Linked DNA regions of Homo sapiens: region 2 is linked to region 1. The links come from fine-mapping of genetic effects on gene expression. A gene starts in region 1. The other region holds a variant in brackets. All regions are shown on one strand. Distances are between the middles of the regions.

What was found.
Region 2: its variant is fine-mapped to the expression of GZF1 in whole blood (INTERVAL, PIP 0.97).

What each region holds. Positions count from the first base shown.
Region 1 is chr20:23,351,059-23,367,375 of GRCh38, reverse strand. It overlaps GZF1 (GDNF inducible zinc finger protein 1), which reads right to left and starts at 5,194. Exons shown (of 6, transcript NM_022482.5): 1 at 5,139-5,194; 2 at 1,629-3,013; 3 at 279-373. The coding sequence starts at 2,992. LINC01431 (long intergenic non-protein coding RNA 1431) reads left to right here and starts at 9,249. Exons shown (of 3, transcript NR_109884.1): 1 at 9,249-9,421; 2 at 10,239-10,325; 3 at 10,407-10,782. NXT1 (nuclear transport factor 2 like export factor 1) reads right to left here. Exons shown (of 2, transcript NM_013248.3): 1 at 16,315-16,317; 2 at 12,605-13,395. The coding sequence starts at 13,334. The coding sequence ends at 12,912. It overlaps NXT1-AS1 (NXT1 antisense RNA 1), which reads left to right and starts at 15,909. Exons shown (of 3, transcript XR_937384.2): 1 at 15,909-16,046. RefSeq lists enhancers at 3,595-3,654, 5,469-5,728, 9,154-9,543, 9,734-9,823, 15,734-15,783 and 1 more and silencers at 4,909-5,398, 5,819-5,908, 8,914-9,103, 16,274-16,317.
Region 2 is chr20:23,427,934-23,444,250 of GRCh38, reverse strand. CSTL1 (cystatin like 1) reads right to left here and starts at 4,566. Exons shown (of 4, transcript NM_138283.1): 1 at 4,445-4,566; 2 at 3,765-4,107; 3 at 207-317. The coding sequence starts at 3,983. RefSeq lists enhancers at 1,246-1,825, 2,228-2,327. The variant AG/G (reference allele first, on the strand shown) is at 7,142.

The DNA.
Region 1 (16,317 bases):
AAAAAATTTCGGTTACAAAAGAACTATTTTATATCTCTTGATACCTAAGACCTGCATGCCAGATCCTATGGCCTGGTGGTATAAAAGCCACAGCCATGTGCACACTAGCAACAAGGCAATGGGTGTATGTTTATTCATTTTGCTCACTTACTAGATGGAAAAGCTATATCATGGCTTTAACCTGCACCACCTTGGTAGATGCCAACTTCAAAATTAATCAATTGCATTTCCTTCTAGATCTAGGAAAGACATTCAATCACAACAGCATGAGTATTTACCTGTGTGACACCTTTTATGATAAATCAGCATGTGGTTCTGAGTGAATCTTGCACCACATTCATCACAGACAAAAGGTTTTTCCCCTGTATGAATTCTGAAAGTACAACATTCAGATGATAACTTAGGATGTATTTCAAAGCTCACTTTGCAATACAATTTCCACTCTATCCTGCAAAAATCGTTTACTCCAAGAGACCTAATGAGAATGACTGTAGTGACAGGTCAAGAGCCCATAATCTCCATCCCAAAATAAACTGAGTTTCTGCACAAGGTCAATGGATCCACACATTTTCCATAAATCACTGACTGGAATGTTCATCTACACCTGATCACAAGCCCTACTGCTGATGCTATAAGGCATGTGCAGGTAGAGACCAGGCCTTTGCAGATTTTTTTAAACACTAAAGACCACAATCTGATATTTGTAAAGCTGTCTCATACAGAATAATCAGCCACAAACACCTTAGGAACTACTGCTGATTAAGTGTCACATGATCAAAAATGTTACTCTCATTTCCTAATATGACATCACCAGTAGAGAAAGGAGAACTGTTCTCAAATTGCCGAAGGTGGCATTTTTAAAATGCATAAGCATTTTAATGTCACAACTAGTATGAAGTAGCAATCAAACATAATTTACTGAGCACTTCCTAAACCAAGTATTTTTAACTTATTATATAGAGTAAAAAATGAACACCATGCTGCTAACCCAAGACTGACCTAGGTTTGAGGGCAGATCTAGAAGAGAAGAGAAAACAACTGCTTGTTGGGATTTCAAGAATAAATATACTAAGAACTATAAGAAAACTTATTTAAAAACATCACCACACACCTGCAGCTCAGAAACATATTAAGAAACAGAAAGCACTGTCTGTCCTGATTCTGGAGTGCAGACTGCCTAGATGGCACTCCTTCCAAGCCTGAGAACCAAAAGACCAGAGACGAGTCCTAAAGCCTGAAATGGCATCTCACTGAGGTCTCTACTGAGACTGTGGGACCCGGATGGTCACAGAACCCCAAGATCTAAACGAAGAGTCAGGAAAGGAGAAATAAAGGTAACGAGGCCCAACTCTTCCTCCAGCACGGTGGGGCGAGCCCGCGGCCGCTGTCGCGGTCCCACCAGAGGGACGTCCCGGCCAGCAGGGGCGCCCCAGGGGTCTCAGAACAAGGGAGCAGAGCCATCACTCGCAGCCCCTGTACCTTGACAGAGAACTAAACGCTGTCTCGAAATAAGCCCCCAGGTTTGGAGCGGAGAAATTAAGCAGTGAGACATCAAATCCCAGGACGACCTCAGTGCTTGACACACCCTTCCAGTGCGCAGGGACCCCTCCGGACGGCTCCCCGCGTACCTCATGTGCGTCTTGAGCGCGGACGGCTGCGAGAACCTGGCGCCGCACTCGGTGCAGCCGTAGGGCCGGTCTCCCGTGTGTGTGCGCTCGTGCAGCCGCAGCGCTGTCTTGGAACTCAGGCCCTTGCCGCACTGGCCGCAGCGGTGCCGCTCGCCGCCGCCCTCATGCACCTGCAGCACGTGCCGCTTCACGTCCTTCTTGCGCTTGAACTTCTTCCCGCACAGCTCGCATGGGAAATGGCGCTCGCTGCTGTGCACGTGGCGCTGGTGGCTCTTCAGGTTGCAGCGGTTGGCGAAGGTCTGGCCGCAGGTGTCGCAGCGGTACACCACCTCGGTGGCCACGCCGTGGCGGTGCTTGCTGTGCTTCAGGAAGCTCTTCTCATACAGAAACGCCTTCTCGCAAATGCTGCACTTAAAGTTGCTCTTCTTCTTCTCCCCTTCTTCGTCCTCCTCCTCCTCCTCCTCTTCCTCCTCCGGCCCTGCTTTCTTTGACAATTCCTCCAACTCAGCACCTGCCTGGCAACCCTCATTTTTGGAAACCTGCTCCATCTCCGTGCCCACCCTGTCCGGGCTTTGGTCCTGGGGACACCTGTAGTCCCCCACATCACCCTCAGCAGTTTTCTGCTGCTCTCGGAGTCTTCTCGTATATTTCTTTTTAGGGATCTCCACAAAGACCTTCCTCCCAGCCAGCCTTCCACTAGCTCTCCTGATTTTAGGGTAGGGAGGTTTAACTACCTCTTTCTTCTTGTCTAGTTTGTCCTTGGACTTCTTCGGTGGCAAATCTGAAGACATGCCATTGCTGGCTCTCTCTCCTGGGTAGTCCAAGGAATCCGTGAGACCACTGGGGTGAGGGCCATCGGTGGCCACACTTGCCCTGGGGGCAGGAGCAGCACTAACTTGGGAGCCACTGCTCACCTCCACCTCCTGAGACTCTGAGAAATTTTGCAACTCCAAAAGTACTGACTCTAACATCTGTTTCTTTAATTGAAAACAAGTTTCTGATAAATCCAAACATTTCAGCTTTTCAGCCACTTCCAGCATTCGCTGCACCCGATCTTCTTCCACCTGTACCTTTGCAGTGTAGACAAACTCAAGAAATGAAGCAAAGTCAGCAACCTGCACTTCATTTAAGTAGACATTAGTCCTAGTACCATCCACACTCTTCTCATTAAGGAACACTTCCTTAAAAAACTTGCTGGTGGCAGCCAGCACTGCCTTGTGGGCCATGAAGTCTTTGCGGACACCCTGATACTCCACGCTGACTGTCACGTCACACAGGTGACCCAGGAGGCGAAGCTCATGCATCTCATGCAGTAGGTTAAATGGGGAGGATTTGGATTCCAGCAGAACTGCACCGCTTTCCATCTTTCTTCCTTCCAAAAACAGCTTTGAAAAAGAAACAAGAATTATGCATGAGCAACCACTGATGCAAAAGGACTAAAATTTATGAGGATTCCTTCAGTACTTGAGAGGATATAGACTCATTAACAACCTAGCTTTACTCAGGTAAAGATTCGAATGACATTTTACTTCTTAGCAGTTTTCTAAAGTGAGGTTCCTCATGCATTTTCCTAAGGTAATAAATTGGCATGAAAAATAGTGTATTCTAAGGTTTCCTCCAGTGATAAACAAATGATGGAAGTTGTGATTAGTGAAATACATTAACACAGTAATTTGCTCACCAAGGTCACTGTCTAATTTGCTTACATAGTCCCCAAAACTGTAAAAGAATTCATGGCAACAATAATGTCTAGTTCTCTGATCAGGAAACCAGATAATTAAAACACATAGCCACCACCATCTGGGAGCAAATCCAAAACCTCAGGGAATCATTTCTGCCTTTGAAAAGAACCAACTAAATAACTACTTTCCATGAGGAAAACTTCTTGGAAAAGTAGTTCACAATTCATCGCCCATTCCCAACATCCTAAACTCCTCAGAATTTGAATTATTGTTACTCTACTGAAATAATGTTAAGTTCCACAGCTTTTACAAGCTGTGCTACTTTGAGCAAGCAACTTCTCTGAACCCATTTCCTCCTCTGAAGAAGGCTGACCGGCTGTTACCAGGGTTCCATGAGCCTGAAACTTGTTGGCTAGTTTATTGGTTTCCCACACATAGGCCAAGGTGCTACAGTGATCCCCATTTCATAGATGAGGACCTATCAAGGTAACAGTCAATGGCTGGTTGGGACATGAGCCAGGGCCTGGTGCCCGGATTCAACTCAGACTACTCAACACACTCTTCCCCTCAGCCTTGCCAAAGGCAAAGGGCTATCTTTAGCCCCTAAATCTTTCCACTGCAGCGGGCATGCAAATTTCACCAACCCCACCTAAGGCCTCCAGATACCGTCACCCCATCGTCATTTCTGCTGCTTTGCCACAAACTCCCTGAATGTGTTTTCTCCCTGCCCTTCAGCTCCTGAATCTACCTTCCTCTTTGATTCCTGTTTCCATCCATCCAAAGCACATGCCTTCCTTCTAGCCTCCTTCGGCCAGACCACAGATGTCACCTCGGATTCAACGTGTCTAGAAAAAAAGTTGTCATCATCTTCCCTGATAAACTAGTCCCACCCCTCTCCCCTTCTCCAGTCTCATCAATGAGACCGCTCCCCACAACTAGCAGTCCCTCAAACATGGAAAAGACTGCCCTCTGGGAGTTCCGCTGTAAACAGGTACCTATGAGGCTTGATCAATGTCGCCTGAAGGAGACGCCCCAGTAAAACTGTGAGAACACTGACAAAGCCTAAGGAAGGGATCTATAAGAGTGGGGCTCTTATAGAGCCACTGGGGTTTCAGTGGTCCCAGCCCCAGCCTGGGGAAACAAGACTGCAGAGGGCTCTCTCAGCCTGATGCCCTGACTTCCCCAGACCTCTGCCAACAGGGCCCTCGAGGAGACCTGATTTCTCAATCAACAAAGTGGGTTCTGAGCGCGATTTCCTATGTTGCTTGGCTACTGGAGTGCAGGCACTGGAGGTGGCGACAGGGCAGTCTGCGGCCGGTGACAGCTGCGTATCCGCCGAATCTCATTGGCATTCCGGCCGCCTCCCAGTGCGCCCGGCATCTGCACCAACGTCGGCGGCCCCTGAATCCCCGAGGCTCACGGGGCCAGAGCCCTTCCAGGAGACGCTGCTACCCGCAGCCCAGTCCACGGCCACAAGGGCCGGGGTTTCCAGTGGGGCTTAAATCCGCCGCTGTCCTCGCCGCCCTCACGGCACCTCCCACCCTTCCCGCGCCACTTGGCCGCCCCAGCGCCCGGACGCCGCTCGGCCACTCCAAAGACGACCCAGAGAACAAACTACTGCAGCCACAGAGAAGCCCCTCCTCGGCCCGACGCGCCGCCTCCCGACGCGGGCATCCGGGGCCGCGTGGATCAGGCCCTCGGGCCGCCCCCTGCCCCCGCTCCCGCATCCCCGAGACGCGCAGGTCCACAGAGCAGCCGGGGCGCGCGGACAAAGAGGCGGCGGCGGGCGGCGAGGGGCCGGAGCCAGGCCTACGGGCCGCGCACTCACCTCCCAGCCGGCGCCCCCGCTGCAGCCGCTGTCCGCTGGACCAGGCCGGTAGGAACGGCCGGCCCGGCTGGGCGTGGCGTAGCACCCTGCGCGGGCACCGCCGATTGGTCGCTGCAGGCCCCTCCCCTCCCGCGGCCGGCCCCGCCCCTGGCGGGGCTGAGGAAGGGGCTGAGCCACACGTCGGGCGGCGGAGCGGTTCGGGCAGTTACCTGATCTGGCCGCGCGACTGACTGGCGACGCCGGATTGCGTCACCCGCCGCATTGCGTCACCCGCCGCGAGCCAAGGCCTGCGCCTGCGCAGGAGACAGCGACGTCTGCGCTGCGGCACGCCACAGGGGGGCGGGGCCAGTCGCGAAAAGTCACGTGAGCGTCAGATTCGCGTGGTCACTTTCGCGTCCATTCCGGGCTTCTGGCCGCAAGGCGCCAGCGCTTCCGGGCCCCAGCAGCCTGCGGTCAGGGCCTGCAGCTGGCTTCCCACTAAGAGCTGCTCACGTCCCCGAGGCCGAGCGCACCCTTAGGGCACGGTGGCCACGCGAGGGACCTCGCGGAAAGCCGGGCTTGGAGCTGGTACTCACCTTGGCTACTAGGGGCGCAGATGCCTCCACGGGCGCTGGAGAACTGGCGCCAGGCGGGGCTCGGCGCGGCGCTCTCCTCTGGGGCGCTTCTTCCGCGGTGCCCCCGCCCTGCTGGGGGGCTCGGCGCGCCAGGAGCCGGGACCGCACCCTGCCGTCTTTACTGCAGGGCTTTATTTCCAGGAGTTCCCATTCGGGCGAAAGCTTTGTTCACTACAGAACTTCCCCAGAGACCCATCCACTCTTCGGGGAAAGCACAATTGATTCCCTAAGATTCGCTGACTCCTCGAAATCTTGCTGTTTCCACCAATTCTTGCTCAATACTAACTAAAGCCCGCTTTGAAACACCTTCCTTGAGTCAGACTTCCAGTTCTCAATAAACTGACCTTGCCTTTTGCTCCCAGCCATTGGTAAAGCTTTGCCAGGTCATGCTGTCCCTTACTGTGGCCAGCAGTTAACTCAGCCTTGTCTTACCGACACGTTGAGTTTGTAATGTTTGGGGACTGTCAGGACAAATACAAATTTAAAATAAGGTTTACTACTTCCTGTTGAAAATATGAGATTTCCCTCCCTTTTTCTTCGAACATTTACTTTTAGAAAATTGGTAATTAGTGTAAGTACTTTTTCCTCTCTTTGAAATATATAAATCCTTTTGAAGACTAGTTAGGCCTTTTTGTGCGCTTTATAACCTAGATATGTCTTTTTCTAGGACCTAGGAGCCATCTCTTTAAGTATCAAGGGAGTTAATGCCCCTGTCTCCCAGTTTTAATGGGGGAGTAGGAGCCTAACTTCAGTGGGCCCTTTGCTCCAACTTACAAAATTATCTCATATCATAAAGATACAAGTTTCTTTTTCCTCTAGATAAAGCCAATTGGCTAACACAGAGGATCATCCCAAATATCAGGTTAGATGAACTGTGTGTGATGAAAAATGCTGCCAAGTTCCCTTGAGAGCTAGTTATTGTTTATCTTGAAAATGTGTGTAATAGATTGCTTGGCTGCACAAAAGAGTGAGATTTCGTTCTGTCTTTGCAGTCTCTTAATGGATTGCCTGTGATGGGTATCACATTCTAGTTTAATGCTTATTCAATTACAAAGTGTTTTCTTTCTCCACTACCTTTCTGAAGAGGGTTGGGAGATTGTACTTTTAATTATATTTCCTGAACAGGAGCCAGCTTCCCACACATAGTAGGTGCTCAATAAATATTTGAAGAATGAATGAGTGACAGAAATCTTTCTTAGGCCGACTCTCTATATTTGCATTCCATGATTTGAAGAAATTGGAATGAACGCAGTTTTCACCCATGGCTCCAGCAGGCCCAGAATCGTGTTTTATGATTTTGTTTTGCATTACAAAAAGGTGGTCAGGCACGGTGGCTCACGCCTGTAATCCCAGCACTTTGGGAGGCCGAGGCGGGCCGATCACTTGAGGTCAGGAGTTGAAGACCAGCCTGGCCAACATGGTGAAACCCCGTCTCTGCTAAAATACAAAAATTAGGCCAGGTGCGGTGGCTCACACCTGTAATTCTAGCACTTTGGGAGGCTGAAGTGGGCGGATCACCTGAGGTCAGGAGTTCAAGACCAGCCTGGACAACATGGTGAAACCCTTTCCCTGCTAATAATACAAAAATTAGCTGGGCGAGGTGGTACATGCCTTTAATCCCAGCTATTCAGGAGACTGAGGCAGGAGAATCGCTTGAACATGGGAGGCAGAGGTTGCAGTGAGCGGAGATTGCACCACTGCATTCCAGCCTGGGCAACAGAGGAAAACTCTGTCTCAAAAAAACAAAACCAAATTAGCCGGGAGTGGTGACAGGCACTTGTAATCCCAGATGCTCAGGAGGCTGAGGCAGGAGAATCACTTGAACCCAGGAGATGGAGGTTGCAGTGAGCTTCGATCATGCCATTGCACTCCAGCCTGGGCAATAGAATGAGACTCCGTCTCCGATTATGTTAGCTAGCATAACATAATGCTAGCTTATCCATTCAATACTGAAAGGATTGCTTTAGTTGAGTGTCTTAATAGCTTTAAAAATAGAGGTCATAAGACTCACAGACTCTTTGTGGCAATACTAAATGATAAAGAATGAAGGGCCATGCCTGGCAAGGGTTGTCATGCACCTCTACACTTCAAGAAGAAACTATGCCTTAACTGCCACAAGGTTTTTATTCTCTGGCAGCCAAACAAGCACTGGCCTCTAGATAAGCAATATTCAAACAATGTGCTTTTCATCCACCTCCACATGCTGACTGACACGCCCCCTGCCCCAGCCCCACCACTTCCACAAATAATTACTGCTTTGATTGGACCAGAGACTGACTGCAGTAACTTTTTCCTGATGGGAAACAACCGAACAGGGGCTGATTCTGGCGGTTTACAGAGGCTGCACACAAGTGCATCGGTGTCCTGAAAAGATCTTTCAACTTATAGGGTCTAAATGTAATACATGAATACCTGTAAATGCTAAGAGTCCACCCCAAAGTAAACATAGGTCACCTGTAACATGCACGTTTGTCCAGTAAGCATGGGTCAGGACCCGTTTCATGAATATTCATAGCTCTTCCTGTGGCCTGTTCATATGTGTACTTGGCTAAGTCCTTCAGCTTAAATTCCTGTCTTAGGCCCCCTTCCCTCCAGCTGCCTGCCTTTTGAGCTTCTGCCAGAAGCTATGCTTCCCAGCCTGTCAGAAGGGCCACCTTGCAGGTTATCACCGTTTAAAGAAATAAAGCTCTCCTTTCTATGTTTGTGATCTTTTTTTTAAATAATACAAATAGACAATTCACTTGACAGTGTGAATGGCATACTTCACTGACAATGGAATACTATAAAAACAATAATAAACCACTGATAAACATCAACCTGACAAAGTTAAATATAGTGTTTCATGCTGTAGAACTCTGCACGAGAAAAGTACACGGGAGTGAACAATTGTTACGTAAGGGCGTTCACTGCAGTGCACTTACATTAGTGAAACTTTGGAAACAATCTCACCTATAAGGAGATGGCCGAAGAATTTGATATATCCAAGCACTGGATTATTATGCCGGTCATTAAAACAATGTTTAAAAATATGTGTAATAGCTTGGGGAAATGCTCACCATGTTATAATGAGTAAAGACGGTACACTATTTTACATAGGGTCTGATGTGATTTGAAAACAAATCTATAGAAATAGACTGGAAAGAAATGTATCAAATTCTAAACTGCACAAGGAAGAACACTGACGCACGCGCAACGCCGGCGCCCTGCCCACTAGGCGCCCTCGCTGCCCCTCACCTGCACAGCCGGCGCACGCCCACAGGCTCGTGAGGGAGCGGCCGGTGGGTCAGGCTGGGCGGCACTCCTCGCCCATTGGCTGTCCCGGAGTCCGGCCCCGCCTCTCCCCGCCTTCTGGAGCCGCTGGTATAGCTCCTTCCAGGGCTCCTTGGAGACGGAGGGCGGGGCTAGGGCGCCGGAGTCACGTGGTCGCGCCACCGCGCGATTACTAGCTGTCAAAAGAGTCCTCAGAAGTGTCCTGAGCGGTCGCAGGGTAATGACGTCGGCCGTATCGGGGATGCTGGAACCTGCGGTTGAGTGAGAAACCGGCGCCACCGCCTGCGTCTTGGTCTCGGGCTGGTGGCCAGCGGGGTCTGGGCGTGGTTTTACCCAGCTCCTTTGCGAAGCTGCTGTCCTTTCCTCAACGTTACCACCCGGCTGGGCAGCCTACCCTCGGTCAGTACGTCCTGGCAAGAGCGCTTCGGGCGTGGCGTTCGTGTCGCGGGGGCCTCGGCTCAGAAGCGAGGGAAGAGCAGCCCTCAGAGGAGCGGCGACCGCGCTTACCGGGAGCCCGGGTTGGGAGAGGGCTCCCCAGGAGGGGTGTGAGCTCCGAACGAGAAAGAACGCCACCGCCTCGTGGGGTCTCTTCCTAATGTGCAGATTCCAAATCTCTACAATGCTGCAAAAGAGGTTACAGTCCACATCAAATTAAGCATGCCCTAAAGGGCAGCTGGGGTTCAGTTCAAGAGTTGAGTTTTAACACACACCTTTACCTGCCTTAAAATTGGGCAAGGTATCACAACGTTAAACCATTTCTCACAAGGCTCGTTGGTGATGTTTAAGATTTTTTGTTTGTTTGTTTGTTTTTTGTTACGGAGTCTCGCTCTGTCGCCCAGACTGGAATGCAGTGGCGCGATCTTGGCTGACTACAACCTCCGCCTCCTGGGTTCAAGCGATTGTCCTGCCTCAGCTTCCTGAGTAGCTGGGATTACAGGCGCCTGCCACCACGCCCAGCTAATTTTTCTATTTTTAGTAGAAACGGGGTTTCGCCTTGTTGGCCAGGCTGGTCTTAAGTTTTGCATCCTGGCTCCCTCCTCTTACCTAGTCCCAGCCTCTTGTCTACAGGACAAAGCAACTTTCTGCAGTTTTCTGTTTGCTCTTTAGAGAGACGGGGCCCTAATTTGGCAAAGTGGTAGGGGAGACAGGGCTGGTGTTTAAGGTCGACCAAAGCAACATCTAAATCTCTGCTCTTCCCCCAAATTGTCCAAATTAGCAGCAACAGGTGTGCACCTTCCAAGCTTGCAACAGACCACATTCAGAAGCTTGATTTCTTGTTGTTCTGGGAATATCTGGATCAGAGGTAACATGGTTCACTAGGACTCCTCAGCTTCACCCAGTGTCCATTTCACCTCCCCCGGCCTTCCAATGTCTCTTCTTGCAGATTTCTCCAAGCCACTCTCCCCGTCATCTCCTCCACCCCCAGGACCCAACTCCTGCCCCTCCCACCCTAGCCCCTGTTCTCCCTGCCCACCTCCTACCCCACTGGAGTGGCCTTTCATCAAACCTAAACCAAAGAAACCAACAGACCTTGCTGTCACCACTACTCCGGGACCTGGAAGTTAAAGCGAGGGAGAGACGGTGAAACACAGAAAGCAGAACGCCTTCTGTTCTTCCACAACACAGGGTTTGTGGACGTGGCCACTATAAGAACTCGCACTGCGTGCTGATTATACTCCTCAGCACAATTCATTTCTTAAACTTTTTAGAATAATTTAAAATTTACAAAAAGTTGCAAAAATAAAAACCAGTAAACTTTTCACCTTCATCTGCCTTATAATTAAGGCAGCGGGCAGCGCGCTGGACAGAACGGGAGGGGCTTGCGCTTTCCGCCGGTGGGAAACCCCACCCGCAGGGACGAGCCGGGACCATCTGGCCCTACCTGCCGAACGGCCGCTTGGTGGAGATGTGTCCCAGAACCGAAGGAGGAGGGTGCCACGCACATTTGTCTTGCCTTCCCCGGTGGCGGGGGCATGGCAAGGGCGGAGCTTCCCGCTGTGCCCTTGGAGGCCGCCTGCAACCAGGCTAGTGTAGGTGGGGACGCACGCCCTGTACCCTACCCATCCTGCCCATTGCGGGTCTGGCCCGGACCTGAAGGGCAGTAGTTGGGGCCGTCCCCGCGTCTTCTGGGCCCTGTAGTGAATACAGTCTGCCCCATTCAAATCCTTTTCCTCACTTAGGATTACTGCTGTGTGTCAGTGTCACACACCCCAAATTGATAATGGCTTAAGATGGGATTTCTCATTTAAAAAGAAGTCTTTGGTTGAGTGAGCTGGGGCTATTTTGGTGTTTCCACATGGGACCTAGGCTCCTTTTAGCTCAGCACTATCCTACGTCTAGGGTATGGCTGAGCTGTTCTCTTGGCCAAGACTGAGCCAGAGCCCGTGGTCAGGTCAGCATAACCTTTCCAGGCAGCAGGATAGAGTGGGAAAGAAAGAAGGGTCTGTTGAAGGAAAATTCCCCCAAGTTCAGTCCTACTTCATTGGCCAGAACTTAATCACATGTCAGACCTAGCTACAAATTGAATGAGAAAGTCAAGTATTTAAGGTGGGTCCCTTATCTCTCAAAACACTGGGCTTCAGATAATAGAGAAGGGAAGGGGTGTCAAGAGGAAACGGCTACCTGTGTCACTGTGCTTATCAGGATTCTTACCCTTCTCAAAATTTCCCATTGCAGTATCTTGACTACCCTATCCCAAACCTAGCACACTTTTACCAAAGACAACTTAACTGGGGAAGCTGCAGCATGGCAGGCACATCATCTATTGGTCCAACTTCTATAGGGTTTTCTATTCTTTACATTGAAGAAATGCAATTGGGTTTGGCCTTTAGGATCAGTAACAGCAGCTTCTGGTTCTGATGTCCTCCATCCTAGTTTCAGTGCTTCTTCCTCTCAGAATCAGTGCTGATTCACTTTCTCTTTATCAATGAGTTTAATATAGTGGCTTCATTTATAAGCAATTAGCTAACTCTAGTATTTCATCTGTTCTCATCATTTAATTCTCAGCTAAGGTGCTAAGGTAGGGCCCAGCCATCTGTTAGGTGATTCTGCTATATCCTAAGGTGATGTATCCTAAAAGACACCTAGGGTGCTTTTAGAAACTGCCCATGCCCAGCCGTATCCTCAAAGATTCAGGCAAACAATTAGCCGGGTGTGGTGGCATGTGCCTGCAATCCCAGCTACTCAGGAGGCTTAGGCACGAGAATTGTTAGAACCCGGGAGATGGAGGTTGCAGTGAGCCAAGATTATGCCACTGCACTCCAGCCTGGAACAAAACCAACCCCCCTACCCACCACCACACACACACACACACACACACACACACACACACACACACACACACACTCAAGCATGGTTGGGTCTGGAGTATGGCCTTGGCATAGGTAATTTTCAGTGTCCCAAGGGATTCTAGTGTGCATGGGGCTGTGAATCACAGCTCCAGGTGGGCCAACTATGTGCACACTGGTGCCTGGGGTAGGTACTAAGCCCTGATCCTCACCCCTGTGCGGGTGCTTCCTATTATGCTTTCTGCCTTTAGCCCTCCTCCTCCCTCACAACCTGGTCAAACACATCAGACAGGGAAAGAAGCAACATGTGTATTATTAAATTATTTGTCAGAATTTCCAGAATCAGAGTCTCTACTGGGCAAGTAGAAAAATAGAAAAGTTTACTACTTTGAAAAGGAAACTATGACAAACAAGTATATATTCAGGAAAGGGACTCCTAGAACTTGAGCAACAAAAAAGAGTTCAACCTCGGCACAGTGGAGTCTGCAGTGTCTCCGCAACAACAGAAATGAACTTGTGTTCCTCACATCCTTGAGAGTCGAGGTTTGCATTTCTCTACAGAGCTAGGGCTGAATGAAGCAAAGAGACCTCTGCCACCCCCACTAGCTGGCCCAGTCCTGGAAGCGGAAGCAGTCACTTGCGATCTTCCACACTGTGTTGCTGGGTGAGGCCTGGGCGGTCAGGATGAAGTTCTGGTTGAAGTCCCGTTGTTTGTTCCCCTCAAACTTCACTGATCCACAGATGACAACAAGGACCGTGGTCTGGCTTGGTGTGGCTTCATCATGAACAGGCTGGCAGTCTACCACGCTGATTTGGAACTCGCTGGAAGGCAACATTTCAAAAAACTCACTCAAGGATTCTTGTCCTGAAACAGCATTGCCATTCCAGACCAGGGTGGCTGTGCCCATGTACAGGCGGGACAGCAAACGCCGCCGCTTATCCATGGTGGTGTAGTAGACATTGACAAACTCCTCAGCAGCTCTGCAGGCCTGATCCACATAGGTCTTGAAATCCACAGATGCCATCTCTGGTTCTATGGAAGGAGGGCTCCACCAGGGTATTTCCTCTGCCTTGGGGAACCAGGGGCTGCAGGGAAGTAAGGTTGAAGAGAAGCCACGTGAATGCCAAAGTTCATTCTGCCCTGACAATGGAACATTCCTCCTTTTCTACTACTGGCAAAATAGTTACAGACTGCAGAACAATGACTGTAGGCTCAAATAGTACCCAATGCCTAAAAATGCCTAATTTTACTAAGACTCAGTTTGCTCACTGTTAAGATGGGATTACCACTGTGGCAAACTGAGATAGTATACCTTAAGTGTTTAGTTTAAAAACATTTAGTTATAGTCAGCACTCCATATCTGAGGGTTTTGCATCCACAGATTCAGCCAACCTCAGGGCGAAACCTGCAAATACGTTGGGCTGACTGTGCTATGCCATTTTGTTTTTGTGACAGTCTCACTTTATCACCCAGGCTGGAGTGCAGTGGCGCGACCTCGGCTCACTGCAACACCTGCCTCCCAGCTTCAAGCGATTTTCTTGCCTCAGCCTCCCAAGTAGCTGGGAATACAGATGCCCGCCACCACGCCTGGCTAACTTTTGTATTTTTAATAGAGACAGGGTTTCGCCATGTTGGCCAGTCTGGTCTCAAACTCCTGACCTCAGGTGATCTGCCTGCCTCGGCCCCCCAAAGTGCTGGGATTACAGGCATGAGCCACCATGCCCGGCCTTAACGCCATTTTATATCAAGGACTTGGAGCATCAGCAGATTTGGTCTGTTGTGGGGCTAGGGGGGCTGCTGGAATCAATTCCCAGAGGATAAGGAGGCCTGATTGGACCACGAATTTTTAAAATCACATTTTATAAAATAGAGTACATTTGAGTATGGAAGGCCACTCTTTCCTGAATGCTTGCAACAGACATGACAGCCCCTTGGTAAAGACAGTGGACCATGTTGAAGGGAAGAGTGGTCACTGGCCCAATAAAGGCCAACCAAACCAATGAAATGCTCGTCAGCTGCTGAGTCTAGGAAAGTCTATCATGAGCTCACTCAGGAGGAACTGGGAAGGCAGAGAAGGCAGGTTTCTTAAGAGGGTAGAAACACAAATGACATGAGGACAGAATCAAAATGGCAGCCATAATCCCCATGATAAGCTAGAAGCAGCAAACCTCTTGGGTGAGTGGGGATTAGAAGGGAGGACACCCAGCTTACACAGGTACTAACATCCACCAGATAAGTCCTGTGGAGTCACAGTGCCTCCACAGAAAGGCATGTTAGATTTCAAAGCTCTTGGGTGTGTGGACACAGAATATGAACTATAGCTGAAATGTCACATTGTCCCCCAAATAAAAAAGTCCAAAAGCATTTAAAAAATTGACATTTACTTTTTTCAGGGTACAGGTACAACTGTTATGTTCTTTTCTCCATAATTAAAATATTTCACTTAAAAAAAAGAGGACATTACTAAAATAGAGGACATTACTAAAATAGTTTATACTTACAAACTTAGTGAACAGTTTTTTTTCATTTCAAAAAAAAGACTTTTTTTTTTATAATGATTAGCTTATGAAATAAATAAAACATTCCACATAGGGCTGGAAAGAGCCAGGTACTTATAACGGCTGCAAAGATGGTGCATTGCCTCTGGTAAAGGGCTGGCTGGGAGGGAAGCTGTCCTAAAAATGAGCAGTTAAGAGCCAATTTCAGACGTGGGTCTTTCCACGCCCTCCACAGACCTCATAGTTAAGCCTCAACTGTACTCTGGACTGAGTACAGTGGTCCCTCGGTATCTGTGAGGAACTGGATTCAGGACCCCCGAGGATACCAACACCTGCAGATGCTCAAGTCCCTGATAAAATGGTGTACTGTTTGATATAACCTATGCGCAGCATCCTCCTATATACCTTCATCATCTGTAGGTAACTTATAATACCTAATACAATGTAGATGGGATGTAAATAGTTGTTATACTGTATAGTTTAGGAAATAATGACAAGAAAAAAAAAGCCTCTACATGTTCAGTACAAACGCATTTTTCTTTTTCTGAAGAATATTTTTGATTTGAGGTTGGTTGAATCCACCCCACGCGGAACCCACGACTAAGAAGCGCTGTGTTTGCTAAGGGCTTCACACAAATTACCTCATTTAAATGTTACCACAAATGGATGAAAAAGGTATTACTATAACAATTTTACAAATGAGAAAAGGGAAACCTAGGGCTGGATCAAAGTAACGACGGTTAAGTACACTCCTGATCTATCGTTTACAAGACTAGACTGAGGGCTGAAATTTTGTCAATACAACGCTGTCCTTGTACTCGCGTAAGCAAGTCTCCATGAGCACAACTCCAGGACTGCTAGAGTGGGAATTTTCTCCCAGGGACCCCATTTCTCTTTGGCTGGAATTCCCGATCTCCACCTCACTCCTCCTCCCTCCATGGCACCAGTCCCCCCATCATCTCAGAAATGCCCCTCTTCTCCGCCCCTGGCTGTCTTTCCAAACACAATCTAACAACTGGCCACGCCCCCACACACCATAGAAGGACCATCTCCACTTACGGTTTTCAGCTACCTATGAGGTCGTCAGTCCCGCTGTCTGTGTCAAATCAGAAAAAGAACCTGACCGTGAGGACTAGAGTAAGAGGCTGTGAAGACTGCCGCCTCCTCGCACGACCCACACCGTCGAGTGTCCGGAGATGGACGGGAAAAGCTACCACAGTGGCATGGCCTTATTTCCTGTGAGTCGCCTTTAATTCAAACCTAGACAGACGCACGCCCTGCCCGGCCCTCCTCAGACCCGAGAGCTGCGCTGTGAGGGGACGCGCCTCCCCTCGTTGATGAGAATTCGCTGCCACGCTTTTTGCACAGGCGAGAGCCTCACCGCGGCGGCAACTCTACCACGTGGACAAAGGCACAGCCGTGTCTCATTCTCGACAATGGAGGAGGGCGTGGGGTATGCACTAGGGGCTGTCTCGGGGGTCAGACCGCCGGGGGACGGCAACGTACCTG
Region 2 (16,317 bases), 77 kb before region 1:
CAACCAGAGGCCTGGGTGCAGGGCTGTACCAGCCCAAATATAAAGCCTCCCTCCTTCACCCAGGTGCCTCAGGAGGTGCCAGACAGCCCCAGGGCTGGGCCCCAGCTGGCCCCAATCCACACAAGTGGCAAAACTGCCAACTTCTAGCTGTTGCTTTTTAAAATATTCACTTCACAAGTCCCTTTGGGATGACTTCCACTACACACCTTTCTCAGCTTCTTGCTTTGCAGGGGGCAGGAAGAATTGCTCGTGTCATTCCTCTTGCATTTGGTCCAGCCAATCTTCACAGTGACTATATACTCCACTCCCGTCGTCAGCTGCCGAGAATCAGTTGTGCTGTTAGTGTGGACTCCAAGCATCCAGTGGCTGACCCTCTCCTGGAGAAGCTAGGACTGAGAGTAAAGCTCCCAGGGCCACAGTTCTTGTTCGCGGAGCTTACCCACCAAAAGCATGGCTCCCTTCTCCTTACTTCTGGCTGGAGGGAGGGCAATGGCAGCCAAAGCCCCTGGTCATAGGTTGGTTTTGCTGCAGCAGCCACAGAAAGCTTCTCACCTGCCTCTGTTCCATCCTCAGGACAGAAGAGGCAACATCAAGCTGGGTTGCCTGGCCACCACAGGCCACTCCCAGGCTGGCAGATGTGGCCTTCAAAATGCAACAGAGCCAGCATCTTGTCCCCACCCCCCCAGTCCCTTCTGCCATTTCCTCTGTCTCTACTATCCTTCCTGACCAACCTAGTGGAAGGCAGCTTAGCAATACAGTTAAAAACAGTTTTGGAATCGAATTGATTTGGGGCATGCATTTTCCATTTAGTGACTGTGACCTTGAGCAAGTTACTTAGCATCCTCAGCTTTTTCACTTACAAACTACAAACCACAATTGTGCCTGCTTCTGGAGTTGTTATGTGGGCTAAATGGAAGCTTGCATTTCCCTGAATGCATAAAATAAATTTTAAATATTTTCATAATTATAAGTTATTACATCTTTTAGCAAAGTGTCTGCAGTGTTACTTTGAAGCAGATTCAGTGTTAGGAGAGTGACAGAACACAAAATCTGGCTTTACCCCCTGCAGACTCTGTAAATTTTACTGAATCTCAGTTTCCTCATCTAGGAAATGAGGAGAATAATGCCAGTTTCCTCCTAGCGTGTACAGAAATGAAGGAAGGAGGCATGGTGGGTACACGAGCCATGGAGAACGCATGCCAGGGATTTCCCCATGGCTCTTTCACTTGTGATCAAGTGTGAGGCCATGAAGCCTGCAGGGGTTGGAGCCTGGAAAAGCCCTTGTGGGCAGGGAGGCCCTACGCCCAGAAGGGAGACTAACAGAGAGCTTGGGGGTTACGGTTCCCTGTCGGGTTCTGAGCTGGATTCCTGAGTAGATATGTGGATTAGTGGATCTTCACCGGTGCAGGAGAAGCTCTGGGAAGCTCCCTGTTGCCTTGCCCTGTCACTGGTCAAGCCCAGTGAGAGGGCTTGGTCATCTCTGGGGTGGTGACTGAGGCAGAGAGTGCCCACACTGCTCCTGGGAGGAAGACACCCTTAGCAAACACTGGGACAGGGCAGCAGGGAGCCTAGACCTGAGGGCAGTACCAGCCTCCCCGCACCCAAACATGTGGGGGCCATCCATGCATGGGCATTTGCAGGGCTGCCCCAGGCACGGTCACACTGACTTTCAGCATGCTCAGAATGTAAGAAAAAACTAAACCACCCGTCATCACTGTAACTGACATTCCAGTGTGCAAAGTGTTATTCGTTATTAGACTTATTTGTTCGATAATGACAGGAGTAGTCATAATAACAGCAAAGATTTTTTATAAGTGCTACCAGATGTTGGCACTGTGCTAAGTGCTTCCCTCCTATTCTGAGGCACTTTGCAGGTGAAGAAACTGAGGTCTGGAGAGTCTGGATGTCACTTGACCAGGAGCCTCAGTTGGGAGGAGCTGGGCGTGAAGCCCCCAGAGGCACCTGGCAGCCCTCCACGCCTGCTCTTGTCCCCTCTGTGAGGTGTAAGGACAGACACAATGGTCATATGGGTGTGGGGGTGCCCAGAGGCCCATGCCAAGATCACCCAGCTACCAGGAGGCACGCCTGCTCTGTCTGCTTATCAATGTGAATGACATCAAATGCTCATCATTATTCCTTAACAGCTAACTTAATGGTGATGGATTGATTTCACAAGGCAAGCCTCCTTGGGGTCTTAACCAATTGTGGAAGAACCAAGAACCAAATGGGCAACATCGCCATCTTGTGGTAGAAGTGCCTCACTGAGCCAGCCTGTGGGACAGTCTGCATTGGGATGAGGATTTGACCTATGCTGACTGGTCCTCCCCACGCTGCCCTCCCGCCTTGCCGGTTCTCTCTGTTCCAGCTGCCTTACTCTCTGGCGAGAGAGCTTTCCCATAGCCAGTTGTGTTTTCCCAAATCTAGCTAATTGAACTAGGACGTAGCATTGTTGCTGCCCCAACTTCTACAGTCAGCCCTCTGTACTTACGAGCTCCATATCTGTGGATGCAAACAACCGTGCATCAAAATATTCAGGAAAAAAAAATGTATGGTTGCCTGTATACTGAACATTTTTTCTTGTAATTATTCCCTAAACAGTACAGTATAATAATTATCTACATAGCATTTACACTGTACCACTTATTATAATTAATCTAGAAATGATTTACCATATGTGGGAAGATGTGCATAGGTTATGTGGAAACACTATTCCATTTTACATAAAAGACTTCAGAATCCATGGATGTGGGCATCCTGAGGGGTCCTGGAACCAATTCCTCATGGACACCAAGGGGACTGTATAGTTTATTATCTGACCTTGAGGAAATGTTGTACCAATAAAAGGGGTTCCCTAACAACTTTTCTTTCTTCTATTATCCTTCAATTGATATATTTCAGAGAAATTTTATATGTAAAACAGAAGGTGAGGTGATCTGGCTGAACCCTATCTCTCACATCCTCTCCACTTCCAGAATAAACCCTCTGTATAATTTGAAGTTTGTATAACACAGAACACCCAGTTTTGAATTTTACAACCCTACACATTGAAAAAATATTGGGGGCTACAGGCCTACAGAGAATATTTGTATTTTGCCAAATGAGAACTTTAAAGGGAGCAAAATTATCCTTGCTGTCACTCCGGCAGGGTCAAATATCAGAATGAAAGGCATTTCTTCCCAAGGAAAAAGAGCTGGCCGGGCGTGGTATCTCACGCCTGTAACTCCGGCACTTTGGGAGGCCGAGGTGGGCAGATCACCTGAGGTCAGGAGTTCGAGACCAGCTTGGCTAACATGGTGAAAACCGGTTTCTACTAAAAATACAAAAAATTTAGCCAGGTGTGGTGGTACGTACCTGTAATCTCAGCTACTTGGGAGGCTGAGGCAGGAGAATCACTTGAACCTGGGAGGAGGAGGTTGCAGTGAGCCAAGATCATGCCATTGCACTCCAGCGTGGGCAACAAGAGCGAAACTCCATCTCAAAAAAAAAAAAAAAAAGAGTTTAATCCTCAGTGAACACTTTTGCCTCTAAGTGTATTGGAGTTAGAGTTCATGCCAGTCCTTAGGAAAGCATTTTGGAAGCATGGCTAAGGACATTCTGGGATCTGAACAACTCTACAATGTACCTGCTACAAGTGAAGATGCTTCCCCCTTGGGACCTCACGGAGGACCACCACTTGGTTCTCTTGGGAGCTACCCCAGAATCCTCACATGTCTGAACTGGCAAGAACAGGGCCTGCTGATGTCTTGGGAGAGCAAGGTACAAACCTGCATCTGACTTCGAATTAGCCTCTGGACTCGATATAAGTAGGTGTCGTTGCTGGCATTGTTGTAGGATTGAATGAAGAAGTTGAGTGTTGAATTCATGTTCTTCTTGCTCATGAGCTTCTGCTGGAAGCCCTCCCACCTTTGGAAGTGACCCAGCTTGGCTGACAGGACCAGGGCAATCAGCAGCAGCAGGGGGTTTCTCCAGCATCCGATCCCCATGTCTACAGCCTCAGAAACTTTCTTCCCAACTGCACCTTCCAGGGTGTGGTGGTGCCAGGCTGCAGTTCACTCATTCTCCCATCATAACCCTCACCAACATAGGCTTTCCTGGGGGATGGCCTGCCTGCATTTAAACAGAGATTCAGACCTGAACCTTGTCACTCAGTTTCCAGCCAGTTCATTTTCTACCCATTTACACCACCCATTCAGTTCTTTGGTGATCCAGGCAAGCAAAATTTTTAAACACCTGCTAAGGCGTGCAAGCCCCTCTCCCTGCCTTCACATGTCTCAGGGAAGAAAAGCCCCAGAACAGCCCCTACAGTGCTCTGCAATAAGAGCTGGGGTTGTAGATAGAGAAGCATCACTTACAGGAAGGGAGGCGGCCTTACGGAGAAGGTAATATCTGAACTGAGATATAAGGAAGCAGTCATATGGAGCAAGGAGTGGTACATTATTCTTACCTTCCTTGGGTTCCAACTGTCTTACAAAGCCACCACCTGTTCCCTGTGCTTCCTTTACAGACACGTTCTCCTTGCTCACCTGCCGCCCGCCCACCACAGATTTCTGCTTGCAGGATCCCCCTATACCTGCAGGCCCTGCACTGGCTTTTGCTATCTTGTTGTGACCCTAGTGGAGCTTTGTGAGGTAATTGCAGCCTCCCTATGAGGGAGGAATAAACTGTGAGCCCCATTTAGAAATTATCCGCAGACCCCTGAAGATTAGGTGTCACTTACCCCCAAAAGCCCATGAATGCCCTATTTTAAAAACATTTGCTGGCTGGGCGCGGTGGCTCACGCCTGTAATCCCAGCACTTTGGGAGGCTGAGGTGGGTGAATCACCAGAGATCAGGAGTTCGAGACCAGCCTGGCCAACATGGTGAAACCCCATCTCTACTAAAAATACAAAATTAGCTGGGTGTGGTGGTGTGTACCTGTAGTCCCAGTTACTTGGGAGGCTGAGGCAGGAGAATCACTTGAACCCAGGAGGTGGAGGCTGAAGTGAGCCGGGAGGGTGCCGCTGCACTCCAGCCTAGGTGACAGAGCGAGACTGTGTCTCAGAAAAAAAACAAAAAACAAACAAAAAAAAACACCTTAAATGGAATCCTACCAGAAAAAAACATTAGTGGAATAGTTGATGAAATGTGAATAAAATCTGCAGATTAGTTAATAGTATTGTGTGAATGTTGATATTCTAGTTTTCACCGTTGTACTGTGATTGTATAATATGTTAACATTTGGGGAAGTGGAATGAAGGGTATACGAGAATGCTTTATGCTATTTTTGCAGCCTTTGTGTAAGTCTGAAATTATTCCAAAATAAAGGTTAAAATGTCCAAAACTAAATAAAGCGTTGTTCTGTGAGGAGTAGCGTGCTGAGGGAGGGGAAGCAGGAGACTTAGGATCCAACTGTCCTGGCTCAAGTCCTTCGCTGGGGACTCTGGGAGAGTTACCTCATCTCCCTAAGCTGGGTTTCTTCACCTGTAATATGAGAATGGGGAGAAAGACTCCACTTGAATTGTGGTAGAGACTAACTGGATGTAGGCAAAGAACCTGCTCCCAAGTCAGGTGTCAGGTGCATAAGAATGTCTTCTTCGTGATTCTTCTGTGACTCTGAACCCACACTTCACCCATGGCCTGTCATGTCCCGGAAGCCAGGCCACCTTCCATCATGACAATGTTGCTAGCACCAGTCACAACATCCTCCCTTGGCCCCAGAGCCTGTCTTGAGAGGACTTGTCCAGCCGGTGGAGGTGATACATTTGAAATTCCCTGAGCCTGAGCTGCCGAGGGCCACTTGCTGTAGAATAGATAATGAAGGATTCCGAGTAATCCGGGAAGCCACACAGACCTGTGCCGTCTCAGCATGCCCCAGACACCTGGGATACCCCCATCAGGCTGAGGCCCATAGAGAGGAAAAATAACATTGGGTGGGCCATATTAGAAACCCCATGGATGTGGGGCTCAAAGCATAAACAATAAATCTGCTTAAGAAATATGGGAGTTGGTTGTGTCCATAAAGAGGAAAATGAGTCACTGGCAATTTTAATTGAAGAAAAGGAAAACATAGACCCTGACTATGCCACAGAAAGAGATGTGAGGCGCCTAACAGGTCACACTGGCGTTCCTTAGCTTGTGTCAGCAAAATGCTGATTTCTGACTCTGTGGACATGGAATCAGGAAAAAAATATGATTCTGGTAAGGTACATGTATAAAGGGAGACAGGGAGCTTGGTTACAGCATGGAATAGGGGCAGAGCATAGTGGCTGACACCTGGGAGGCTGAGGCTAGGAGGATTGCTTCAGCCCAGGAGTTCCAGACCAGCCTGGGCAACATGGTGAAACCCCGTTTCCACAGAAAATACAAAAATTAGCCAGACATGGTGGCCCACATCTGTAGTCCCAGCTACTCTGGAGGCTGAGGTGGGAGGATCACCTGAGCCCAAGAGAGGTCGAGGCTGCAGTGAGCTGAGATCACACCAAGCACTCCAGCCTGGGCGACAGAACAAAGGGAAATAGAGGGCTTAGTTGTTGTCTGGTTACTGCCATGAAACAATGGAAAAATAGGGGCCTGAGTATTTCCGTGGAACAAGAGTAAATTAGGAGTGCTGGCTATAACAAATAGGAGCCCTGTTCTTGCCAATAAAAGAAGGGAAAAATATGAGCTCTGGTTAGACCATGGAATAACAGGAAATATGAGGTCTGCTCATGTCTGTGGAATAAGGAGCATAGGAGAGAAGGATTGCAGAAGGGCATGAGAAAACTTCAGGTGATAGATATGTCTGTTGTATGAATTGTAGTGATAATTCCACAGGTGCATACGTATGACAAATTTCATCAAATTGTACACTTTAAATATGTGCAATTTGGCCAGGCGCCGTGGCTCACACCTGTAATCCCAACACTTTGGGGAGGCCAAGGTGGGCAGATCACATGAGGCCAGGAGTTCAAGACCTGCCTGGCCAACATGGTGAAACCCCATCTCTACTAAAAAACACAAAAATTAGCCGGGGAGCACATGCCTGTAGTCTCAGCAACTCTGGAGGCTGAGATGAAAGGATCGCTTGAGCCCTGGAGGTCTAGAATGCAGTGAGCTGTGATTGTGCCACTGCACTCCAGCCTGCCCAGCAGAGTAAGACCCCGTCTGAAAAAAAAAAAAAAAA[AG/G]AAAGAAAGAAAAAGTATGTTTCCCAGGAGTCCAGCAAACTGGGCCTCCTGTCTCATAAGCTGAACCTGGTAACAGGCCACTGCTGGACCAGGCATGATGGCAAGTGTGGGATTCCTGTTGGATCAACCCGTGGCTGGGTGCTGTGTGGGCGAGATGGTGTGTGTCCCACAGAGGCCCCCTATGAGCTGCACAACTTCCTGGTTCTGTCTGTTGACGACCAAGCTCAGGATTTCTTTATCAGTCCAGCTCCTAGGAGAAGCAGGAAATAAACAAGAACATGATGATGTGTTTTATCCCAGCAGGCTCTGCTTATGTGGGCTGAGGAACCTGCAGACAGGGAGCTTCCTGGCTGTAGTTCTTCATCACTCCTTCACCAGTAGATATGGCATTGGTGCTGGGAAAGGGTCACACTGTGACACTCTCTTCATCAGCCGACATCTGCTATCTGAAATTTTCTGATCATTCTGGGGAAACAAATAATCCTCTGTAAACAACACGGCTGATCTCGGTTGGTTTCTTCTCTCCACTCTATTTTTTTTTTTTTTTTTTTTTTTTGCATGTAGCACTATTTGACAAGCTCTTCTTTGTCCCCTAAATAATCCTGTTCTAGGCTGGCTGCTGACCTGGAGATAACCCAGGCAGAAAGCAAATCTATTTGCGACCCACCTGCTGCTGGGCACCCTCCAAACATGGCCCAGGAAGGAATGGTCAGCAGTCTGTGCCTGCTTGAGGAATCTCCCAACTGTGGCTGCAGGGCAGGGGTAGGGGAGCACAGTCCATGCTGCCAGCAGCAGCTCCCACTGCAGCCCTGAGCCCTCGCCCCCAGGGCAGCAGCAGAAGAACATGGCTGATCTTGGCTGGAAATGCCTTCTGATTCTGGGGAGCAGGCCAGCAGCAGGCGCACAGAAAGTCAGCAAACAAGGCGGTGCTACAGATGGCTCCAAGCTGGCATCGCTCCAAAGGTCCCAGGGTACATTTTCTCTTTCCAGACACAGAAACATGAGAAATCACAAGGCTTAAAAAGTGAGAGCGTGTCACAAGAGGCCAAGGATGCCCAGAGTGGAGGGGCTTGTGGGGAGGTCATCGTCCTCATCCAGCCTTTGGTCTCCTTTCTGCAGACGTTTTCCACAACACAATATCTGTTTACCAGCTCTTAAATAGTCATCAGGTTCCATTTTGAAAGCAAAGAAAAAGCAGGTGGATTCTGCAGGCTGCGACACTCCTGCTTCCACCTTCTCCTGCGATCTGTCTGGTTTTCTGTAAGCAGATGCTTTTCCCACTGAAGCAATGAGCAGCAAAAGCGGAAGAGGGCCAAGAGTCTGTTGAAATCTGTAATTAAGTCTTCAAGTTCAAATCTTTTGCCCATTTTTCTGTTTGGTTGTCTTCAATTGATTTGTAGGATTTATTTATCCTTCTTGCAAATGTCATCCTCTGGGTTGTGGTTGTCTTTTCATTTTATTTATGGCATGTTGATGAAAAAATATTCTTAATCTTAATGGAAAGAATGTATTGATTTTTCTTTCTTGTGGTTTGCATTTTTTATGTCTTATTTAGGAAATCAAGGTCATAAAGCTACTTTTAAATATTTTTTCTGAAATTCTTAAAGTTTAGCATTTCCCATTTACGTCCATAATCCATCTAGATTTTTGTGCGTGGTATGTTTACTAATGTTTTCTTCAGAATTTTTGTATCTATCTTCATGAGTTAAACTGGGCTGTGATTGTTTTTTCTCATATTGTGCTTTCCTGGTTTGGGTTTCAAGGTTATACTGGCCTCATCCAACGGGTTGGGGAGCATGTCAGTCTGGGTCTCCACAGTCAGCACAGGCACACTTGCAACAGGAGAGTTCAGGGCAGTTTCTATACGGGGCGCTGTGCAATGGTGCAGGGACACAGAAACCCTGGGACACAGGGCAAGTGTCTGCAGCAGCCATGCCACCTAGCCTAAGCCTGAAAGATGAGGCAAACATCTAGAAAGAATTGGAGTGCCAGCTGGCCACTTTGTGGAGAGAGCAGGGGACAAACACCATGATGTCAGTCTCCTCTGTCCTCTACCTCATTCCTAGGCATCTTGTTGTCAAATACAAGCAGAAGTTATAGGGCACAAGAGCCCCACGGATGGAGTCCATAGCAGCCTGTGTTGTGAAGCAGAGAGCAGCATGGAGAAAGTGCCTTAGTCAGGGTTCTCCAGAGAAACACAGAGATATGAAGAGATTTGTTATAAAGGATTGGCTTGTACAATTATGGAGGCCTCGAAGTCCACCATCTGCTGTTTGCAAGCTGGAAACCAAGGAAAGCCAATGGTATAGTTGGAAGGCCTGAGAGCTGGAGAGCCACGGGTGTGGATTCCAACCTGAGTCTGAAGGCTTAATAACCAGGAGCGCTGAGGGCAGGAGAAGATTGATGTCACAGTCCAAACAGCCAGGCAGAGCTAATTCAACCATCTGCCACTCGGGCACTCAGTGGATTGGATTGAATGGTGTCACTCACATTGGAGGGGCCATTTGCTTTACTCAGTCCACTGATTCAAATGCTGACCTTTTCCAGAAACATCCTCACAGACCCATCCAGAAATAACATTTAACAGATAGTGGGCATTCCGTGGCCCAGTCAAGTTGACACGTAAAATTAACCATAACAGAAGGTTAGCCAGTGGGGCTAGGGAGCAAATAGAAATTAGCCAGCACCAGATGATTTCCCTCTGTCTTAGTTCTCTTGAAAAGCTGCTAGTTTTTATCTTTTTGCCCATTTCTTTTAGGGATTGGGAAAGGGATATTCTATGATCTGACTTCATTTCATTTCTTTATCCAGATACTGTCCCAATGTGCAGCTGATTTTCATCATTTGCAGAAGGTATCTTCTATAAAATCTCTGCAAACATGGAAGTAGTAAATGCTAAACCATTGTGCCCAGGAAAAACACAAGGTTTGGTTTCCTTGAGTCTCTGGTTACAACACTTTCTGTCAATTGATCAATATTTAACCTTATTTTATGTGTGTCTCTAGTTAGAGGTGTCTTTTAAATATATATTGTTGACTCATTGTCATCAAGCTCACCACCAACAGTCCTGTAAATGCCTGAATGAAGCTTATTTAAGACACATTTTCTCCATAAGGCACCTCACAGTCTTCTTGTGCCTAGGAACTAGATAGCACTGCAGCACTATGCCTGGGGCCATTTTAATCAGCAAAATCACCAACCAAAAAAAGCACAAAACTCAAACCACATGTGATAGCTCATACCTGTAATGCCAACACTTTGGGAGGCCAAGGCTGAAGACACTTGAGCTCAGGAGTTCGAGATCAGCCTGGGCAACACAGCAAGACCCCACCTCTAAAAAAAAAACCAATACAAAATTGTGAAACGTGGCACTAAACAGGCTGTGAAGAAGGACACATTAACAATATAAGAGCTAGAACAAGGCTGGGAGTGGTGGCTCAAGGCCAAGGCAGGTGGATTACCTGAGGTCAGGAGTTCGAGACCAGCCTGATCAACATGGGGAAACCCCATCTCTAGTAAAAATACAAAACTTAGCTGGGTATGGTGGCACGTGCCTGTAGTCTCAAATACCTGGGAGGCTGAGGCAGGAGAATTGCTTGAACCCAGGAGGTGTAGGTTGCAGTGAGCTGAGATCGAGCCACTGCACTCCAGCCTGGTAGACAGAGTGAGACACCATCTCGAAAACAAACAAACAAACAAAAACAACAACAGTTGGAACAAGAAGGCAGATTGCTGCTGTATTTGACCTCAGCTTGGAACATATGTGTCAGGCCACCCACATTTTTGCCCACTCTGAGCGTCTGTGAATGACGGCAAAAGTGCCACAAGTGTTGATTTTAGGAATGCAACTTAATTTTAGCAAGTAGGTGAGTTTGCAAATATGAAATCCATGAATAATAAGGGTTGACTGTGTTTTTAAAGACAGTTACTACCATGTTAAGAGTAGATTTGCGAAGACCCAGTTCTTCCCACCTGATAATGAAGAAATGCTAGTACCGCACCCTAAATAAGCCTGGGACGGTGTAATCTAGTGATGGGGAAATTATTTCACTTTCCAAGACAGTCTTAGATGTTTCCATAAGAGCCAAATGTGATGCAAACCAAATATGCCACCGTGGAAAAAGGTTTTGTGAAATCTGATTTATTCAACTATTGGCCATTAACAACCAATTACAAACACTTATAGCAACAGAGAAAATATATGTTTCATAAACAAACAAAAAATACAAACTACAAGCATACTCCTAATAATACTTACACATGTGTAAGTTTGATGGATAAAAATGAGATAGCACTATATATGTATAAAAAATTAAAAATGTTTCATTGAGCAGGTAGAATTATGAGCATCTTTTTTTCCCTAAAATTTCTCCTAATGTAATATTAAATAATCATGTGAAAGGAATTCAAAGAGTATGTGAGAAATAAACCATTTTTCCCTTTAAGCAGTTGTGTCTGTGGCTCACAACCATTTAACTTACATTAAGCATAGATAAGAAAGGTCCTAGAATATATAATATAAATAAAAATTGTCAAAATGATCTTATGCCCATTTGCCATAAATAAAGGCATCAAGTTAATTTCAAAACTTGTTTTTAGACTTTTACATCAACTAATAAAAAGAAGAATATTTGGTCGGGCACAGTGGCTCATGCCTGTAATCCCAGCACTTTGGGAGTCTGAGATGGAAAGACTGCTTGAGCTCAGGAGTTTGAGACCAGCCTGGGCAAGAGAGCAAGACCTCATCTCTACTAAAAATAAAAATTAAAAAACAACTGGGTTTGGTGGTACATGCCTGTAGTCCCAGCTACTCAGGAGGCTGAGGTAGGAGGACCACTTACGCCTGGGAGATTTAGGCTGCAGTGAGCTTTGATTGTGCATTTTATTTTTTTTTATTTTTTTTTTTTGATGCTGTATTCTTTATTGCATCTTATCGACTGGTGCATGATTTCGGTTTTTCTCATTTTTTTTTTTTTTTTTTATTATACTCTAAGTTTTAGGGTACATGTGCACATTGTGCAGGTTAGTTACATATGTATACATGTGCCATGCTGGTGCGCTGCACCCACTAATGTGTCATCTAGCATTAGGTATATCTCCCAATGCTATCCCTCCCCCCTCCCCCGACCCCACCACAGTCCCCAGAGTGTGATATTCCCCTTCCTGTGTCCATGTGATCTCATTGTTCAATTCCCACCTATGAGTGAGAATATGCGGTGTTTGGTTTTTTGTTCTTGCGATAGTTTACTGAGAATGATGGTTTCCAATTTCATCCATGTCCCTACAAAGGATATGAACTCATCATTTTTTATGGCTGCATAGTATTCCATGGTGTATATGTGCCACATTTTCTTAATCCAGTCTATCATTGTTGGACATTTGGGTTGGTTCCAAGTCTTTGCTATTGTGAATAGTGCCGCAATAAACATACGTGTGCATGTGTCTTTATAGCAGCATGATTTATAGTCCTTTGGGTATATACCCAATAATGGGATGGCTGGGTCAAATGGTATTTCTAGTTCTAGATCCCTGAGGAATCGCCACACTGACTTCCACAATGGTTGAACTAGTTTACAGTCCCACCAACAGTGTAAAAGTGTTCCTATTTCTCCACATCCTCTCCAGCACCTGTTGTTTCCTGACTTTTTAATGATTGCCATTCTAACTGGTGTGAGATGATATCTCATAGTGGTTTTGATTTGCATTTCTCTGATGGCCAGTGATGATGAGCATTTCTTCATGTGTTTTTTGGCTGCATAAATGTCTTCTTTTGAGAAGTGTCTGTTCATGTCCTTCGCCCACTTTTTGATGGGGTTGTTTGTTTTTTTCTTGTAAATTTGTTTGAGTTCATTGTAGATTCTGGATATTAGCCCTTTGTCAGATGAGTAGGTTGCAAAAATTTTCTCCCATGTTGTAGGTTGCCTGTTCACTCTGATGGTAGTTTCTTTTGCTGTGCAGAAGCTCTTTAGTTTAATTAGATCCCATTTGTCAATTTTGGCTTTTGTTGCCATTGCTTTTGGTGTTTTGGACATGAAGTCCTTGCCCACGCCTATGTCCTGAATGGTAATGCCTAGGTTTTCTTCTAGGGTTTTTATGGTTTTAGGTCTAACGTTTAAATCTTTAATCCATCTTGAATTGATTTTTGTATAAGGTGTAAGGAAGGGATCCAGTTTCAGCTTTCTACATATGGCTAGCCAGTTTTCCCAGCACCATTTATTAAATAGGGAATCCTTTCCCCATTGCTTGTTTTTCTCAGGTTTGTCAAAGATCAGATAGTTGTAGATATGCGGCATTATTTCTGAGGGCTCTGTTCTGTTCCATTGATCTATATCTCTGTTTTGGTACCAGTACCATGCTGTTTTGGTTACTGTAGCCTTGTAGTATAGTTTGAAGTCAGGTAGTGTGATGCCTCCAGCTTTGTTCTTTTGGCTTAGGATTGACTTGGCGATGCGGGCTCTTTTTTGGTTCCATATGAACTTTAAAGTAGTTTTTTCCAATTCTGTGAAGAAAGTCATTGGTAGCTTGATGGGGATGGCATTGAATCTGTAAATTACCTTGGGCAGTATGGCCATTTTCACGATATTGATTCTTCCTACCCATGAGCATGGAATGTTCTTCCATTTGTTTGTGTCCTCTTTTATTTCCTTGAGCAGTGGTTTGTAGTTCTCCTTGAAGAGGTCCTTCACATCCCTTGTAAGTTGGATTCCTAGGTATTTTATTCTCTTTGAAGCAATTGTGAATGGGAGTTCACTCATGATTTGGCTCTCTGTTTGTCTGTTGTTGGTGTATAAGAATGCTTGTGATTTTTGTACATTGATTTTGTATCCTGAGACTTTGCTGAAGTTGCTTATCAGCTTAAGGAGATTTTGGGCTGAGACGATGGGGTTTTCTAGATAAACAATCATGTCGTCTGCAAACAGGGACAATTTGACTTCCTCTTTTCCTAATTGAATACCCTTTATTTCCTTCTCCTGCCTGATTGCCCTGGCCAGAACTTCCAACACTATGTTGAATAGGAGCGGTGAGAGAGGGCATCCCTGTCTTGTGCCAGTTTTCAAAAGGAATGCTTCCAGTTTTTGCCCATTCAGTATGATATTGGCTGTGGGTTTGTCATAGATAGCTCTTATTATTTTGAAATACGTCCCATCAATACCTAATTTATTGAGAGTTTTTAGCATGAAGGGTTGTTGAATTTTGTCAAAGGCTTTTTCTGCATCTATTGAGATAATCATGTGGTTTTTGTCTTTGGCTCTGTTTATATGCTGGATTACATTTATTGATTTGCGTATATTGAACCAGCCTTGCATCCCAGGGATGAAGCCCACTTGATCATGGTGGATAAGCTTTTTGATGTGCTGCTGGATTCAGTTTGCCAGTATTTTATTGAGGATTTTTGCATCAATGTTCATCAAGGATATTGGTCTAAAATTCTCTTTTTTGGTTGTGTCTCTGCCCGGCTTTGGTATCAGAATGATGCTGGCCTCATAAAATGAGTTAGGGAGGATTCCCTCTTTTTCTATTGATTGGAATAGTTTCAGAAGGAATGGTACCAGTTCCTCCTTGTACCTCTGGTAGAATTCGGCTGTGAATCCATCTGGTCCTGGACTCTTTTTGGTTGGTAAACTATTGATTATTGCCACAATTTCAGATCCTGTTATTGGTCTATTCAGAGATTCAACTTCTTCCTGGTTTAGTCTTGGGAGAGTGTATGTGTCGAGGAATGTATCCATTTCTTCTAGATTTTCTAGTTTATTTGCGTAGAGGTGTTTGTAGTATTCTCTGATGGTAGTTTGTATTTCTGTGGGATCGGTGGTGATATCCCCTTTATCATTTTTTATTGTGTCTATTTGATTCTTCTCTCTTTATTTCTTTATTAGTCTTGCTAGTGGTCTATCAATTTTGTTGATCCTTTCAAAAAACCAGCTCCTGGATTCATTGATTTTTTGAAGGGTTTTTTGTGTCTCTATTTCCTTCAGTTCTGCTCTGATTTTAGTTATTTCTTGCCTTCTGCTAGCTTTTGAATGTGTTTGCTCTTGCTTTTCTAGTTCTTTTAATTGTGATGTTAGGGTGTCAATTTTGGATCCTTCCTGCTTTCTCTTGTAGGCATTTAGTGCTATAAATTTCCCTCTACACACTGCTTTGAATGCGTCCCAGAGATTCTGGTATGTGGTGTCTTTGTTCTCGTTGGTTTCAAAGAACATCTTTATTTCTGCCTTCATTTCGTTATGTACCCAGTAGTCATTCAGGAGCAGGTTGTTCAGTTTCCATGTAGTTGAGCGGCTTTGAGTGAGATTCTTAATCCTGAGTTCTAGTTTGATTGCACTGTGGTCTGAGAGATAGTTTGTTATAATTTCTGTTCTTTTACATTTGCTGAGGAGAGCTTTACTTCCAACTATGTGGTCAATTTTGGAATAGGTGTGGTGTGGTGCTGAAAAAAAATGTATATTCTGTTGATTTGGGGTGGAGAGTTCTGTAGATGTCTATTAGGTCTGCTTGGTGCAGAGCTGAGTTCAATTCCTGGGTATCCTTGTTGACTTTCTGTCTCGTTGATCTGTCTAATGTTGACAGTGGGGTGTTAAAGTCTCCCATTATTAATGTGTGGGAGTCTAAGTCTCTTTGTAGGTCACTGAGGACTTGCTTTATGAATCTGGGTGCTCCTGTATTGGGTGCATAAATATTTAGGATAGTTAGCTCCTCTTGTTGAATTGATCCCTTTACCATTATGTAATGGCCTTCTTTGTCTCTTTTGATCTTTGTTGGTTTAAAGTCTGTTTTATCAGAGACTAGGATTGCAACCCCTGCCTTTTTTTGTTTTCCATTGGCTTGGTAGATCTTCCTCCATCCTTTTATTTTGAGCCTATGTGTGTCTCTGCACGTGAGATGGGTTTCCTGAATACAGCACACTGATGGGTCTTGACTCTTTATCCAACTTGCCAGTCTGTGTCTTTTAATTGCAGAATTTAGTCCATTTATATTTAAAGTTAATATTGTTATGTGTGAATTTGATCCTGTCATTATGATGTTAGCTGGTGATTTTGCTCATTAGTTGATGCAGTTTCTTCCTAGTCTCGATGGTCTTTACATTTTGGCATGATTTTGCAGCAGCTGGTACTGGTTGTTCCTTTCCATGTTTAGCGCTTCCTTCAGGAGCTCTTTTAGGGCAGGCCTGGTGGTG